Linked DNA regions of Homo sapiens. The protein of the gene in region 3 purifies or fractionates together with the protein of the main gene of each other region. This does not show direct contact. Each region holds a gene or a part of one and is shown on either strand. Other genes may lie near its edges. The genes, in order: RNF10, TUBA8, ZC3H8, SRFBP1 and LIN28B.

Region 1 (3,529 bases), on a different chromosome or scaffold from region 3:
ACAGCTCTAATTCTATGTAGCCTTTCTTATGCCTGTAATGGCATTTGAACAAATACGGCTGCAACGTATTATAGAAAGAAAGCAAAAGTTAAATACACAGGACTCTACCCAAGGAGCCCTTGGGAGTCAGGGAGAAGGGAATTCAAATACCAGCTGCATCCCTTACTAGCAAATTACCCAACCCAGGATTCAGTTTCCTCATCCATGAAAGGGGATAGTTCTATCTACCACACTAGAAGCTTAAGTGAGATAAATGTGTATAGCACAAGTCCTATCAAATGCTGATCACTCAATAAATATGGGCTTCTATTGCTCTAAGCTAGATCAGTGGTTCCAGGAGTGTGGTCTGGGGATGAGCAGCCATCAGAATCACCCTAGAACTTGTTATATGCAAATTACTGAGCCTACTGAGCTTAACCTATGCAATCAATATCTCAAAGTGGGACCTAACAACCAGTGGTTGTGATGCTTCAAGAATCTCTGTTGTGGAAGATAAAAGACCCAGGGAATTCTGTTCTTGTGTAATTCTTGCCGTTTCAGGTACTCCTAAGGCATACTGGGCAGGCCATAATACTTTCTCCACAATGTCTTTCAAAACACCTCTAGAATAGAATCTTAAGTATTTTCCCAGAAAACAAAGAACTCTAACTTGCTTTAAGAACATAGCTAATCTAAAAAACTCCACTGTCACAATTAGTTATAAAATCATTTTGACTTGCTCCTTTCAGCTCTAGAAAGAGCTTTAAAAGCCCTAGGTTAAACCTTCTCTACTGTCATCAAACAAAGCCCAAAACAAATTGGCTTTTTTAGCCATTCTCTGCTTATTGTCTTAAATGTGGAATGGAACTAACTTAATCCCCAGCGTCCATCATCTCACCCCCGACAGAGTGAAAAGGTTTAGCATTTCTGGTTTTCACCACAGAACGCCGAGAAAGTGAAAAGGTTTAGCATCTCCAATGCATCCTCTCACCTTGAGCTCCTGGATAGCTGCCTCAATAAAGCAGGACTCGGGAGTGTGCTTCTCCTCTGCCAGCTGCTGCTCTAGTGCTACTTTCTCCTCCAGAACTACCCGGTGCAGCACCTGCTCCTTAGAGGCCAGCAGCAACTTGGAGTACTGGCTGTGCTGTTCATCTATAAGAATGCCAGCAAGATCAAAGAAATGCAACATTCAAAGCTCACGATGGTGTAGCTAAATAGGAATTTTCAAATACAGCCTTTTCTCTGGGGTGAAAATGGGGTAATTTAGCATGATTTCCTAGAAAATAATTTAACAATGGTCTTAAAATAAGGTCTGTAGCTCTGCTCTTGATATAAGAAATCTAAGAAACCCAGAGATGTAGTCAAAACTTTAGTCACGCGTTTATTGTTACAGCATTGTATGTAATATCAGAAAAGCTCAAACCAGCCAGGCACCATGGCTCACACCTGTAATCCCAGCACTTTGGGAGGTCAAGGCGGGTGGATCACTTGAGATCAAGAGTTCGAGACCAGCCTGACCAACATGGTGAAACCCCGTCTCTACTAAAGATACAAAAAAGTTAGTCGGGCCTGGTAGGGCATGCCTGTAATCCCAGCTACTTGGGAGGCTGAGGCAGGAGAATCGCTTGAACCCAGGAGGCAGAGGTCGCAGTGAGCCAAGATCATGCCACTGCATTCCAGCTTGGGCAACAAAAGCGAAACTCTGTCTCAAAAAAAAAAAAAACAAAAAAAACCACACACAGAAAAAGAAAAGCTCAAACCAACCAGTAAAACCAACAATAAAGAATAAAGAAATGGTGGACCAGCGCAGTGGCTCACACCTATAATCCCAGTACTTTGAGAGGCCAAGACAGGAAGATTGCTTGAGTTTAGAAGTTTAAGACCAAGCCAGCTGGGTGTGGTGGCTCACGTTCAGCACTTTGGGAGGCTGAGGCAGGTGGATCACCTGAAGTTAGGAGTTCGAAACCAGCCTGGCCAACATAGAGATACCCTGTTTCTATTAAAAATACAAAAAATTAGCTGGGCGTGGTGACGGGCGCCTATAATCCCAGCTACTAGGGAGGCTGGAGTAAGAAAATCGCTTGAACCCAGGAGGCAGAGGTTTCAGTGAGCCAAGATCGCACCATTGCACTCCAGCCTGGGCAACAAGTGCAAAACTCTGCCTCAAAAAATAAAATTAAAAAAAAATAACACCAGGCGGAGTACGGTGGCTCACACCTGTAATCCCAGCACTTTGGGAGGCTGAGGTAGGCGGATCACAAGATCAAGAGATTGAGACCATGCTGGCCAACATGGTGAAACCCCGTCTCTACTAAAAATACAAAAACTAGCCAGGTGTGGTGGTGCGTGCCTGTAATCTCAGCTACTCAGGACGCTGAGGCAGGAGAATCTCTTGAACCTGGGAGGCGGAGATTGCAGTGAGCCGGGATTGCACCACTGCATTCCAGCCTGGCAACAGAGTGAGACTCCATCTCAAAACAAAAACAAAAACAAAAAAAGCACAACACACACACACAAAAAAAACAAAAATTAGCCGGGCGTGGTGGCAGGTGCCTGAAATGCCAGCTACTCAGGAAGCTGAGGAAGGAAAATCGTTTGAACCGAGGAGGTGGAGGTTGCAGTGAGCCGAGATCACACCATTGCACTCCAGCCTGGGAAACACAGCAAGACTCCGTCTCAAAAAAAAAAAAAAAAAAAAAAAGAGTAGTTCAAGACCAGCCTATCAACATAGCAAGACCTCATCTCTGCTAAAAATAAAAATAAAAAATTAACTATACCTGCATGCCCAGTTAATTTTTTAAAATAAAAAAAATAATTTAAAATTAAAAGTTAATTTAATTAATTAAATTAATTTTAATTATTTTAATGAATTTAATTAATTAAAAGTAATTATTGCCACTGCACTCCAGCCCAGGCGACAAAGTGAGATTCCATCTCAAATAAAGGGTTAATGACATGATGGTATGTTCATTAACGAAAATTCTGTGGACACTAAAAGTGGTTTTCTTGGCCGGTCACAGTGGCTCACGCCTGTAATCCCAGCACTTTGGGAGGTAAGGCGGGCAGATCACTTGAGCTCGGGAGTTCGAGACTAGCCTGCCAACATGGTGAAACCCCGTCTCTACTAAAAATACAAAAAAAATCAGCCAGGCATGGTGGCGGGCGCCTGTAGTCCCAGCTACTCGGGAGGCTGAGGCACGAGAATCGCTCAAACCCGGGAGGCAGAGGTTGCAGTGAGCCAAGATCATGCCACTGCACTCCAGCCTGGGTGACAGAGCCAGACTCTGTCTCAAAAAAAAATATATATATACATATTATATTATATATCTATAAATAAAATAAAAATAAAATTTATCAGTCTTTTACAGCATCTATCATTTCAGCCTGGTTCAAAAATCCACCCATATCTGAGGATTTTTTTTTAATTAATACACATTTTTAATGTTTTAAGTTGCTAAACATTTAAACAGTCAAAATCACTAGGAAAAAAATATTACACACACACATTTACCACCCAAATGAGAACACACAATCCTTCAGACAGATGCAC
Region 2 (2,241 bases), on a different chromosome or scaffold from region 3:
AAACATTGTAGTTAGGGTGGACAGGACAGGAGGAAAGGCAGGCCCTGCATCTCAGCTCTACCTCCTACTGTCTCCAACACCTAAAACATCCCAGTCTGTTCATCTACACAATGAGCAGAATATCCATTTTGAGACTGTTGGGAGGATTGGATATAAGGTCAGTATGAATATAGAAATAAGGTATACATATCCTGCTTGAAACCTTCCAAATCCTTCTGTTTCACTTAGAAAAAAATTCTAAACTCCTCTCCATGGCCTGTAAGGCTGGATGCTCTCTGGCCCTGCCTGGCTCCTGGGTCTTGTCTCTCTGACTCTTCCCCTCTCACCATCCTCCAGGAAACAATCTCCTTTCTGCTCTGCAGACGCTCCAAGCTTGTTCCTAGCTTTTGCACTTGCTTCTCCCTGCACCTAGCATCCTTTTGCACGGCCCAGGCCTCCATGAGGCTGTCTTGACCACGCAGTCCACAGGAGCACGCCCAGACACTCTCTCACCACTGCTTTTTACTTTCTCTCACTTGACACCAGCTGACATGATCTCATTCACTTTATTTATGTGTGTATGAGGGCAGGAAATGTGTTCGTCTCGCTTATCACCAACTCTCCAGCTCTCAGTGCCTAGGACAGGGTGTGTATTGGAATATGTGATGGGGGAGTGAATGCATGCTAAGTCTAGATGATGCCCGGAGCGGGCTATAGACCCACTCATGTGAACGTCCGCTCACCCCTGCCCCGGAATCTTCCCAGGCCCAGATCTCCCCTTTCTCTGAGTGTTCCCACTCCCCAGCCAGCAGGCCATGTTTTGGGGCTGGACCCAGCCCGATCTGGAATTGAAACTCCTGATTAGGCCTCCTCGCATGTGAAACTGGGCTGCAGCCTCACCCGCCGGAGACAGTGGCCCTCACTTTCTTTAGTGACACAAAGCTGCTCCTACCCAGGGAGGGCCTGATGAAGCTCAGTGTCCACTTAGCCCAGTCGTGCCACCCTGGGTACTGGGGCCAGGCACCCTCCTCCTGGGTAAGGCAGGAATCAGGCTGGGGCGGGGAGAGTGTTCTGTTCTCTTGAACATGTGCTTTGAATGGCACAGCATAAATAAAGAGACACAGCCAAGGGGAAGGTATATATTTAAAATTCCTCCCCTTCATTTTCTTCTTCAAACGAATCAGTCCCCACTTCTTCATAATCCTTCTCCAGGGCAGCTAAGTCTTCCCTGGCCTCAGAAAATTCTCCTTCTTCCATCCCCTCTCCCACATACCAATGCACAAAGGCCCGCTTGGCGTACATGAGGTCGAACTTGTGGTCGAGGCGGGCCCAGGCCTCCGCAATGGCCGTGGTGTTGCTGAGCATGCAGACGGCCCGCTGCACCTTGGCCAGGTCTCCCCCGGGGACCACGGTCGGGGGCTGGTAGTTGATGCCCACCTGAGGGACACAGAAAGAGGAGGAGCCACAGAAGAAGATACAAGTCAGCCAGAGGATAACTCAGGATGGGACATCTTGGTCACTTGGCATGGCTTCAAGTCATGGTCAGGGGCGTGGGAGTGGGGCTATGGGATGCAACAGGCGGGATGGGACTGGGGAAGCCAGCAGGTGGCAAGGGAGAAGCTGAAGAGAAAGTGGAAGCAGGCAGGGCAACAGAGCAAAAACCCATCTCTACCAAAAAAAAAAAAAAAATTAGCCAGGCCCGGTGGCTATGCCTACTAGTCCCAGCTACTCAGGGAGGCTGAGGTGGAAGGATCACTTGAGCCCATGAGGTCAAGGCTGCAGTGAGCTACAGTGGTTCCACTGCACTCCAGTGGCAGGGACACAGCAAGACCCTGTCTCTTAAAAGCAAAACAAAAAAAAAAGTAGATGGGGAAGGGCTGGGCAATCAAAGGCTAGAGAAGGAGGACAGGGCTGGTATAGGGGGCTCAGCAAGTAGGCAAATGAGAGTCACGAGCGACATTAGGAGCGGGTGGGAGGTGTCTGGTACATGTGTATGTGTAACAGGGAAACGCATTCTAGATTCAAAGCTGTTCAAAAGTGTACTCTCTCCCAAGTGGTCATCTGAAGTTCCTCTTAGTTGTGTTGCGAGTAAATTTAAGGAAGTTTCCCTGCCAAGAGTGAAAACTGTTGGAAGAGGTCACAGGGATATTCCAGAGCAATAAATAAAGAGAGCCGAAAGGCCCCGGGATGGTGTTGGCGTTAACCAGGCTCTAGGTTTTTGGGAATTGGGGCTTCTTAGAAGAAAAGCAGGGTCTCCAATCC
Region 3 (3,529 bases):
CACATGCAGAGGCCAGGGCTTTAGCATTCTCCCTTTAGAAATAGTCAGGGCCTTTGATAACCCACCTCCATCCTCCAGCTCCCTCTACAAACTAAGCATTTAATGCACCAAGTGGCCAGGTCTCAGATGGGGTCTCTGGCCATGCAAGCTCATGTCTGGTATAAATATTCATGAAAACCATAGTCTTATCATAAGATAAAGTGCAAAGAAAAATCCTCTGTCCGTATATGGACAACTGTGACTGCTTCTCTAGATAAACTTTAAATGATAAAATAGTTTGACTCTTACCCTGTGGGGTATCTTTTACTCCTTCTTTCTTTGTAGATTCTTCAGGTTGAGCAGCATTTGCCATTTCTCTGGCTTGTATGTACTGTTGAAGCTCTTTGGCAAAATTATCTTCTGATTCCTGACTGCAGATATCATTATCACTATATACATCATAGTCCTTACTTCTTGATTTTCTATGCAGCGAACTTTTTGGTGATATTGCAGAGTGTCTAAACTAAGTAAAAATTAAAACTTCAATTTTAAAAACCTAGCATGATTCAAAACAATCTGGCTATACAGAAGAAACAAGATTGGCTATAAACTGGTCATTGTTGAAGGTGGGTAATAGGTACATGGGATTCATATACTATTCTCTCCACTCATATATTTGAAAATTTCCAGAATTAAAAAAAAGAAAAAATTTCCAGAATTAAAAACAAACTAACAAACCACTATGACATATCTATCCTTAAAGATGATTTGAGGGAAAATTCTAAATTTGTACATTGTGTGCCTTTGACTGAATTAAAAGTCTAAACCCCTAAATCTTAATTATTTGATATGAGAGGATTACAGTATTACAGTTCACACATTACATTTCTGCCTTTGCATTGACAGTACTTTTAAATGTCTTCAATAATTTATCATTTTGTAAAACACCCCAAGTAAACTGTAATGGTCCATATGAAAACCCACTTACACTTAAGATACATCTAAGCTACCAAAGTCTAGTCTTTCTCCTATAACTCACAGAAGTGGTAGCAGCAATGATGACAAGGAATAAAGAACTACCCTATTCTCTGTAATCAAGTTAACTTTACTTGCAGAAAGAGTTTCCTAACTCTGTTGTTGCACGTGCCCAAGGCAAGGGTGAAGAACCCAGGCATGGGAGCTAATCCTAGAGGAGCCCAGGCTGATGACAGCAATGACTTAAAGCAATTTCTGCATAAAAATTTTCAGGTATTGGTTACATGTGTTTCTACACTTGGTGACACAGGTATATTAAACTGTATCATTATAATTAGTATGTATGACACATTTTAATCAGAAAGTTTATTTTTAAAAAATGACCAAGTATCAAAGGGCTCCTATTCTGATGTCACGAAGAAATGGCATGCCTATCATTACAGTGGATAATGATTTTGTTTCAAAGCATACTTTGGGGCCTGGTCTCTTATTTGCTTTCACATGATAACTAAGAAGCAAACTCAAAACAAACAGACAAAAAACAAAACAGAAGAATCGCTATTATAAAATATATTAGGTGGCCCAATTTAACAGTTTACTTTTTTTTTTTTTTTTTTTTTTTTTGATGGATTCTCACTCTATTGCCCAGGCTGGAGTGCAGTGGCACGATCTTGGCTCACTGCAACCTCTGCCTCCCAGGCTCAAGCGATTCCCTTGCCTCAGCCTCCCGAGTAGCTGGGACTACAGGCATGCACCACCATGCTCAGCTAATTTTTGTATTTTTGATAGAGACAGGGTTTCACCCTATTGGCCAGGCTGGTCCTGAACTGCTGACCTCAAGTGATCCGCCTGCCTCGGCCTCCCAAAGTGCTAGGATTACAGCCATGAGCCACCATGCCCGGCAACAGTTTACTTCTGATGGTTAACTTCAAAGTTAGGAGTTGTTCCACCAGAGGATTGATTATAAGCCTAGAAAATGAACTTGCTCCCTGCTTAAAGAATCCAAACAAGCTGAGGAAGTTTCTTGATCTGACAATGGCCTCAATTATACCTTATCTTCCCTACACCAGACAAGACTATCAACCAATTATCTTCAGGCCACCAAACTTCTTGTCTCTAGGTCTTCAAGAAAGAGTGCCTTTTCCCCATTAACACCATAGAATAAACTTGTAAATGTAACTTCTGGACTGATAGATCAGGGGTTGGCAAATTTTCAGCTTCACCACCTGTTTCTGTAAATACAGTTTTACTGTAACACCAATTACATCCATTCATTTACATATTGTCTTAGTTGTGACAGAGACAACATGGCCTACAAAGGTGAAAAGATTCACTAACTGATCCTTTATGAAAAGGTTGGCCGACTCCTGTGATAGATTATGTTTACCTTGGTTTTGGCCTTTAATTTTATTTAGTAGGCATGGGGGAACCAAAAAGATTATTCAGTATGCAGCAGCTCCTATGAAGTTTAGCTTAATCAAATACATAGAGGTGAGATTTTCTTCAGTGCATCTGAATCAAAATATTAAAATGATCCAAATGAGTGATTAAGTTCCCTCTGTCTGCACAAAACACATAGGCCTACAGTATTGAAGCAGACTCCTTTTACGACAAGTAATAATACGTTGGACTTACATTAAATGAAGACATGAAACAATCTGGCAACATTAATAAAGCCAGGACAATCATCAATTTTGCTGTTTTATTATACAGTAGGGATAAATATTACTAATGATTCTTTTCAGAGGGCATTGAAATATATAAAATACAAATAATTGAATACTTTTCTTCACTTAGCTAGCTATAAACTCATTGCTTCAGTTTGTTGTTTTTTGTATAATTTAAAAAGCATACGAACATGATTACATCCCCTTTCTCCTTTTGTAAGAGTCTAAATAACTTTTTTTATTCAAGATGGTTTACTGAACTAGTATGGCCTCCAGAAACCTCCAAAATTAAAGTACAGGTAACAGTGTGTGTGTGTGTGTGTGTGTGTGTGTGTGTGCGCGTGTGTATGTGTGTTGTGTTTTGTGTGTGTGTGTGTGTGTGTATGGGAGGCATGAAGTGCATTCATCAGGAATTAAGAGTCAAATTTCTGATAGACAAAAAGGAAGTTATGCTCTAAAGGGTGGGCTTAGGTACAGTGTGAGAAATGGGGCTATAAATGAGAATGAATTAAAATTCTACAAAAAACAGACAAAGCTGTTACAACAAATTCTCTCTGCCCTCTCCCTCTCCAGAACACAACCACCCAGGTACTTTCCCTAGGAAAAAAAGAGAAGGCTGTTATCCAAAGAAATGGAATAGAATGTCTGGTAAAAGCTAAGATGTGGGTACTACGACCACCCACATGGAGGTACTAAATCTTCCATGGGCTGGCATTTGGGAGCAACCCCTACTAGAAAAATACTCCATCCTACTCACCATAAAGCAGGGGTTCTCACCCTGCTGTCCAGAGACCCCCCCCTCAAGGGCCTATGGATTGAATTCAGAAAATTCAGTGAACTTGAATTCAGAAAATTCAGTGAACTTGAATGAGAAGAAAACCACATATTATTTTCATCAACCTCCAAAT
Region 4 (3,500 bases), on a different chromosome or scaffold from region 3:
GCTGCATAAATGACTTCTTTTGAGAAGTGTCTGTTCATGTCCTTCGCCCACTTTTTGATGGGGTTGTTTTTTTCTTGTAAATTTGTTTAAGTTCTTTGTAGATTTTGGATATTAACCCTTTGTCCGATGGATAGATTGCAAAAATTTTCTCCCATTCTGTAGGTTGCATGTTCACTCTGATGATAGTTGCTTTTGCTGTGAAGAAGCTCTTTAGTTTAATTAGATCCCATTTGTCATTTTTGGCTTTTGTTGCCATTGCTTTTGGTGTTTTAGTCATGTAGTCTTTGTCCATGCCTCAGTCCTGAATGGTATTGCCTAGGTTTTCTTCTAGGGTTTTTATGGTTTTAGGTCTGACGTTTAAGTCTTTAATCCATCTTGAGTTAATTTTTGTATAAGGTGTAAGGAAGGGGTCCAGTTTCAGTTTTCTGCATATGGCTACCCAGTTTTCCCAACACCATCTATTAAATAGGGAATCATTTCCCCATTGCTTGTTTTTGTCAGGTTTGTCAAAGATCAGATGTTTGTAGATGTGTGGTGTTGTTTCTGAGGCCTCTGTTCTGTTCCATTGGTCTATATATCTGTTTTGGTACCAGTACCATGCTGTTTTGGTTACTATAGCCTTGTATTATAGTTTGAAGTCAGGTAGCATGATGCCTCCAGCTTTGTCCCTTTTACTTAGGATTGTCTTGGCTATGCAGGCTCTTTTTTGATTCCATATGAACTTTAAAGTAGTTTTTTCCAATTCTGTGAAGAAAGTCAATGGTAGCTTGATGGGGATAGCTTTAAATCTATAAATTACTTTGGGCAGTATGGCTGTTTTCACGATATTGATTCTTCCTATCTATGAGCATGGAATGTTTTTCCATTTGTATGTGTCCTCTCTTATTTCCTTGAACAGTGGTTTGTAGTTCTTGAAGAGGTCCTTCACATCCCTGTAAGTTGTATTTCTAGGCATTTTATTCTCTTTGTGCAATTGTGAATCGGGAGTTCACTCATGATTTGGCTCTCTGTTTGTCTATTATTGGTGTATGGGAATGCTTGTGATTTTTGCACATTGATTTTGTATCCTGAGACTTTGCTGAAATTGCTTATCAGCTTAAGGAGATTTGGGGCTGAAACAATGGGGTTTTCTAGATATACAGTCATGTCTTCTGCAAATAGAGACAGTTTGACTTCCTCTCTTCCTATTTGAATACGCTTTATTTCTTTCTCTTGCCTGATTACCCCGGCCAGAACTTCCAATACTAAGTATGTTGTAAAGAGATTAAGATTAAAGTTTGTTGTTATTCTTGCGAAGTAAAGTAAAAATTTATCTTTACTCTTCTAAAAAATAAACCATCACTTTTTACTCTATCCTGATGATTATTTATTGCATATTTTTGGTACTTTGAAGAGAGAATTTTTGATTGCTTTTATAGCAGCTTCCCTAACCTCCAGCACAGTACCTTGTCTACAGGTAATAAGAAGTAGGTATATAATGGGCAGATGAAAGCATGGATAGCATAACTGTCAACTAATGTTCAAATGAGAGGGAAAATCTCCTAAATGCTTTTTTTCCTCCCTTTCCATTAGAACTAGAGGAGAAATGCACAATTGAAAACAACAGTGCCATAGCATTTAGTGCGTAAATAATTTGCAAAACTAGAGCTAGATTTTCTCAAGTCATCTGTTTTCTAAAATTTAGGCAGCAGTGATATGTAAAAATCAGATTTAGGAGGTGTAGCAATCTGATGGAGTGCTTTAATTTCATAGGAAGGCCAACGGCCTATATGTACAACTGACATTTTATTTTTTTTTATTTTTTATTTTTTATTTTTTTTTTTGAGACGGAGTCTCGCTCTGTCGCCCAGGCTGGAGTGCAGTGGCAGGATCTTGGCTCACTGAAAGCTCCACCTCCTGGGTTCACGCCATTCTTCTGCCTCAGCCTCCCGACTAGCTGGGACTACAGGCGTCCACCATCACGCCCAGCTAATTTTTTTTTTTTTTTTTTTTGTATTTTTAGTAGAGACAGGGTTTCACCGTGTTAGCCAGGATGGTCTCGATCTCCTGACCTCGTGATCCGCCTGCCTCAGCCTCCCAGAGTGCTGGGATTGCAGGCATGAGCCACCACGCCTGGCCTATTTTATTGTTTGATAGCAAATTACCATTAAGCCCATTAGAAAATTGCTTTTCATTTCATGTAAGACAGTAAAGGTAGAAACTAAAGTGCCAAAGAACAAAATGAGTTTCCTCCACATATTGTAAAACATAAGAATGTCAAGAACCACGTTTGTATGCGCTTATGAAGTTACAAAACGCTTGTGTCGTGATTAGGTGCATAGTACTTTTTAATAATTTTTTTCTGAAATATTAAATTAGGGCATTTCCGTAAGAACCAATTTGTGTTTAGTTATTAAACTATTCTGGGAAGTTTTGCTAGGTGGCAGCATATGCCCAATAATGGTTAAATCGTAGATAATCACTAAGCACTCTAGGTATTTTAAAAAATTGTTGCTCATCAGAAATAAAAAGTAAAATCAACAATAAGTTATCATCCATATGATAAAATTAGGGTCCTCTTCATACAAAAATAATTTTGGCCAGGTGCAGTGCCTCACTCTATAATCCCAGCACTTTGGGAGGCTGAGGCCGGCAGATCACTTGAGCTCACGAGTTTGAGACCAGCCTGGGCGACATGGTGAAACCCCGTCTCTACAAAAAATACAGAAAAATTAGCCAAACATGGTAGTACGTACCTGTAGTCCCAGCTACTTGGGAGGCTAAGGTGGGAAGATGGCTTGAGCCCGGGAGGGGGACGGAGGTTGTGATGAGTCGAGATCACACAACTACTCTCCTGCCTGGGCAATAGAGCCAGACCTTGTTTCGAACAAAGACAAGAAACCCAATAATTTTGTTAACTATGAATTACTTCAAACGTATGGAAAATAATGTAACAGATCTTCTTATAATCTACTTCCTATGTTTAGGAAATGTCAGTGTTTTGCTATATCTTAATATTTAATTCCACCCATCTTCTTTTCTACCTCAGAGGTAATTATTCCTCTTGGTGTGTGTTTTTCTCTTATATATTTTTCACAATTTTAGTAACATACGTATCTATACCCAGTGTATAGTATTGTGTTGTATACTTTTAAACTGCATATTGTTTTACAAATTATAAATTGTAGTAGTCTCCCTTTATCCATGGGGGTTATGTTCCAAGACCCCCAGTGTATGCTTAAAACCTCAGATAGTACCAAACTCTGTCATTATTATTATTATTATTATTATTATTATTATTATTTTCTGTACAGTAATGGGCAGGTAACGGATACAGCAGAAATACACTGGATGTATGATTTACATCCCATGTGGGATGGAGTAGTACAGTGAGAGATTTCATTATGCTACTCAGAGTGGTGCACAATTTAAAATTTATGAGTTATTTATATTTGGAATTTTGGCTAACCGCAGGTAACTGAAACTGCTGACAACAAAATTGTTGGTGGGGGGGACTACTG
Region 5 (3,529 bases), on a different chromosome or scaffold from region 3:
ACAAATATATAAAGACAAAGCCTCTTTATATATGTGTCTACATTCCTATATAAAAATCCTCATGTACACACACAGACTCAGGCTCTCTCCCTCTCACACATGCACATATTGACAGACATAGTATCTTATTCTCTGAATTAACATAAAACATGACACCCTGCTCAAATGTAATTTGCTTAGAGTGATTTGTCTGTTTAAAAAATTCACAGTTCCCCAATAGTAGTTAAAATCCCAGGTCAGCTACTGCTTGTGAAATACTGTTCCCCTATACTTGCATGAGGTAGACTTTGCAACCGGGTAAAGGAAAGAACATATGAAGAAGACCTGTTATGTCTTTTTCCTTTTTTGAACTGAAGGCCCCTTTTTGCTTTGCTCTTCTGGTGCTATAGATGACTTCGTGGAGGAAGCTTCTTGAGGTGACCTGCCTGACCGTTCTGAGATCTCTGCCCTAGCCTCCTGAGGAAACGGTGGTGATGTACAGCCATGCCCGCCTCCCACTTCTCGAGGGAGAGTTGAAGTGCATGGCTGGGATTCTGCTTCCTGTCTTCCCTGAGAACTCGCGGGTGGCTGTGCAACATTTTTATGTGGGCAGTTTGCCACCATGTGCATGATGCTCTGACAGTAATGGCACTTCTTTGGCTGAGGAGGTAGACTACATTCCTTAGCATGATGATCAAGGCCACCACAGTTGTAGCATCTACAAGGAAAAAAGATGAAAACATCTTAGAAGTAGGCAGCATGTATCCAAAAACACATTTTAAAATGTGAAAACACACAAACTACCAATGAGATAAGCTTATTTTAATGTGCCTTCTTAAAAGCATTTATCATTGTTTATACTGGTTACACTGTTGGTTCAAAGACTATCATCACCAAAATGTTCTGGTGAGGTTAAAAACTTAGTTGTGTGAGACACAACTAAACACAGTGAAAAACAAGAGTATTAAAACATGTAAGAATATTTAATCACTTCCATATAGAAAGGATTCCTTTAAATTTGACACTATCTGGTCATTTTAAAAGAACCATTAAGCCCACTAGAGGGCAGCGAATATTCAACAAAAAACAACAAGCCAGTTTTAAAAACAAGAGTGTAGAAATACAGCTGTTGGCATGATACAAAGTGGCAATTCACTCAGAAACTGGCAAAATTTTAGACCAAATTTAAAAGTTTAACACTTCTTTGAATGTTAATTATTTTGACTGTAGAAACCAGCTAAACTGGAAAAATTTTTTTCCTTTGTATAAAATTAAGTAATGCAGTGAAATTTGATATATAAGAAAGTCAGAGTCTAGTCAGAAAGTCAGGATGATATCTGGCAAATTACCAAGTAATTTTAGAGCAATAGAGTAAATGTCTGAATCAGAACAGTGCTAAAAAAAGAAAGCTTCTAAATACTTAGATTGAATTAATAAAGGTTCATGCTAGTTCAATGATGAGAAAAGTTAACTTTCTTTTCTTTTTTGTAAGAAATTAGCTTTCTTTTAGGGTGATCTCTTTTAAGTTAAAATAAATGGAAATCCGTCCATAATATGTGAATGCACACTGGGGACATGGCTTTGTATTAGATGTTTGAAAGTTCAGCTTTTAGCTTGGCAAGGAAAGCTAAGCAAGAAAATTTTTTCAGAGGTATATTTGTTCAATCAGATTTTCTTCTAAAATTTTATATTAAAAGTAACAAAAAAACCATTAGTGGAAGAAACTAAGAAAAATTTATATTTACCAAAGGTGTTAAATCTGATTTTAAATACAGAATTTGTTTAATGACTTGTCTCCAAATGAAATATTTTAAGAGCTTTCTATTTTATTTTCCAAATACATTTATGACTCCATAAATCTCATTTATGAAGCACAAAGAACAACAGGTTATATATATATATTTTTTGAGATGGAATCTCTCTCTGTTGCCCAGGCCAGAGTGCAGTGATCTCGGTTCACTGCAACCTCTGCCTCCCGGATTTGGGCGATTCTCCTGCCTCAGCCTCGGGAGTAGCTAGGATTACAGGCATGTGCCACCATGCCCGGCTAATTTTTGTATTTTTGGTAGAGACAGGGTTTCACCATGTTGGCCAGGCTGGTCTTGAACTCCTGACCTCAAGTGATCCGCCTGCCCCTTCCTCCCAAAGTGCTGGGATTACAGACGTGAGCCACTGCACCCAGCCAGGTTATAATGTTTTTAAAAAATAATAACAAAATGTTTTAACTAGCTGGGTGGCGGTGGCTCACGCTTGTAATCCCAGCACTTTGGGAGACCGAGACAGGCGGATTATGAGGTCAGGAGATCCAGACCATTCTGGCCAACATGGTGAAACTCTGCCTCTACTAAAAATACAAAAATTAGCTGGGCATGATGGCGCGCGCTTGTAGTCCCAAGCTACTCGGGAGGCTGAGGCAGAACTGCTTGAACCTGGGAGGCGGAGGTTGCAGTAAGCCGAGATTGCGCCACTGCACTCCAGCCTGGCGACAGAGTGAGACTCCATCTCCAACAACAACAACAAAAAAAGTGTTAACTGAGAAAATTGGCTTAAGTCCAGACTCACAACAAGAAGTGAATTATGATGACATATTTGTATGTGTGTGAGAACATCAAACTTAATAATTTATTCTACCTTATATTTCATAGACAAACTACTAAGGTACTAACAACCTACTAAGCAGTGTATATAGGATATTTAGTATTTTATCTCCTGGCATAAATTGAACAGTGAATTTTTTAATTGGCAAAAATTAGGGTAACTATTGCCTGCTTCTCCAGTTAGCAATATTACCTTATATACTTTAGAATAATGAATTTATAAGATGGGCTTTTATTCTTTGCAATGATTAACAAGTATTTATCTTAGGACAGACTGAATCATATTTTCAAAAAGAGAAAAAAAAACAAGAAATCACATGTTGTAGTTAAATTATTCATTGTATAATTACATATCTTAATAAAGTATTACAGTGCAGATTCAATATTGTTTCAGCCATATGTTCTAAGAGAGTGTAAGATTAAATAATAAAGTTTACTTGCTAATGCTTAAAATTCAGGTTCTCAAAATAACACTAAAAAATGACATATTTGAAAAATATAACCACATTACTTATAATAATATATTTTCCCACACAGTTCTCCTCTACAATAGATAAGTGAATTCTTAAATTAAAGTTGCCCATCTATAAAATATCTTCTTTTGAATTAAATTCACTTCCTTGAGGATAACTTCCACTCAGGAGCTCATTTTCAAAGAGACAGAAAATAGGTTAAAGGCTTCAGTAATAGGGCTGGCTCTCCTGCAGACACATCAATTTTATCAGTCACCGTGGTATGCACTGTGTTATCCAATTCAGGGAACCATTTTGCCCACTCATTGACCAGGAGCCTGATGTCAGTATTCTACTTTCACAAATGGGATCTTCAATTACCCTCTATCTGTGCATTTACCATTAGATTTGGGCTATAAAAGTTATTTTTAAGGATGCTATATAATTTTGGTTTCCTTACATTTTGATCTGCATAGTTAATTCACCCCCTTGGCTTTCCTG

Evidence for each region.
Region 1: the proteins of ZC3H8 (region 3) and RNF10 purify together in Homo sapiens (co-immunoprecipitation; one large-scale study listed by IntAct). This does not show direct contact.
Region 2: the proteins of ZC3H8 (region 3) and TUBA8 purify together in Homo sapiens (affinity purification with mass spectrometry; 3 studies listed by BioGRID and IntAct, with this or other methods). This does not show direct contact.
Region 4: the proteins of ZC3H8 (region 3) and SRFBP1 purify together in Homo sapiens (co-immunoprecipitation; one large-scale study listed by IntAct). This does not show direct contact.
Region 5: the proteins of ZC3H8 (region 3) and LIN28B purify together in Homo sapiens (co-immunoprecipitation; 2 studies listed by BioGRID and IntAct, with this or other methods). This does not show direct contact.

The regions. Positions count from the first base shown.
Region 1 is NC_000012.12:120,558,328-120,561,856, reverse strand, and holds part of RNF10 (E3 ubiquitin-protein ligase RNF10), read right to left. Parts: intron 1,132-3,529; coding exon 971-1,131; intron 1-970. UniProt on the Homo sapiens protein: E3 ubiquitin-protein ligase that catalyzes monoubiquitination of 40S ribosomal proteins RPS2/us5 and RPS3/us3 in response to ribosome stalling.
Region 2 is NC_000022.11:18,130,018-18,132,258, reverse strand, and holds the end of TUBA8 (tubulin alpha-8 chain), read right to left. Parts: intron 1,417-2,241; coding exon 1,123-1,416; 3' UTR 527-1,122; downstream 1-526.
Region 3 is NC_000002.12:112,238,027-112,241,555, forward strand, and holds part of ZC3H8 (zinc finger CCCH domain-containing protein 8), read right to left. Parts: intron 1,228-3,529; exon of another isoform or gene 1,095-1,227; intron 503-1,094; coding exon 289-502; intron 1-288.
Region 4 is NC_000005.10:121,964,975-121,968,474, forward strand, and holds part of SRFBP1 (serum response factor-binding protein 1), read left to right. Parts: intron 1-3,500. UniProt on the Homo sapiens protein: May be involved in regulating transcriptional activation of cardiac genes during the aging process. May play a role in biosynthesis and/or processing of SLC2A4 in adipose cells.
Region 5 is NC_000006.12:105,075,582-105,079,110, reverse strand, and holds part of LIN28B (protein lin-28 homolog B), read right to left. Parts: intron 698-3,529; coding exon 328-697; 3' UTR 1-327. UniProt on the Homo sapiens protein: Suppressor of microRNA (miRNA) biogenesis, including that of let-7 and possibly of miR107, miR-143 and miR-200c.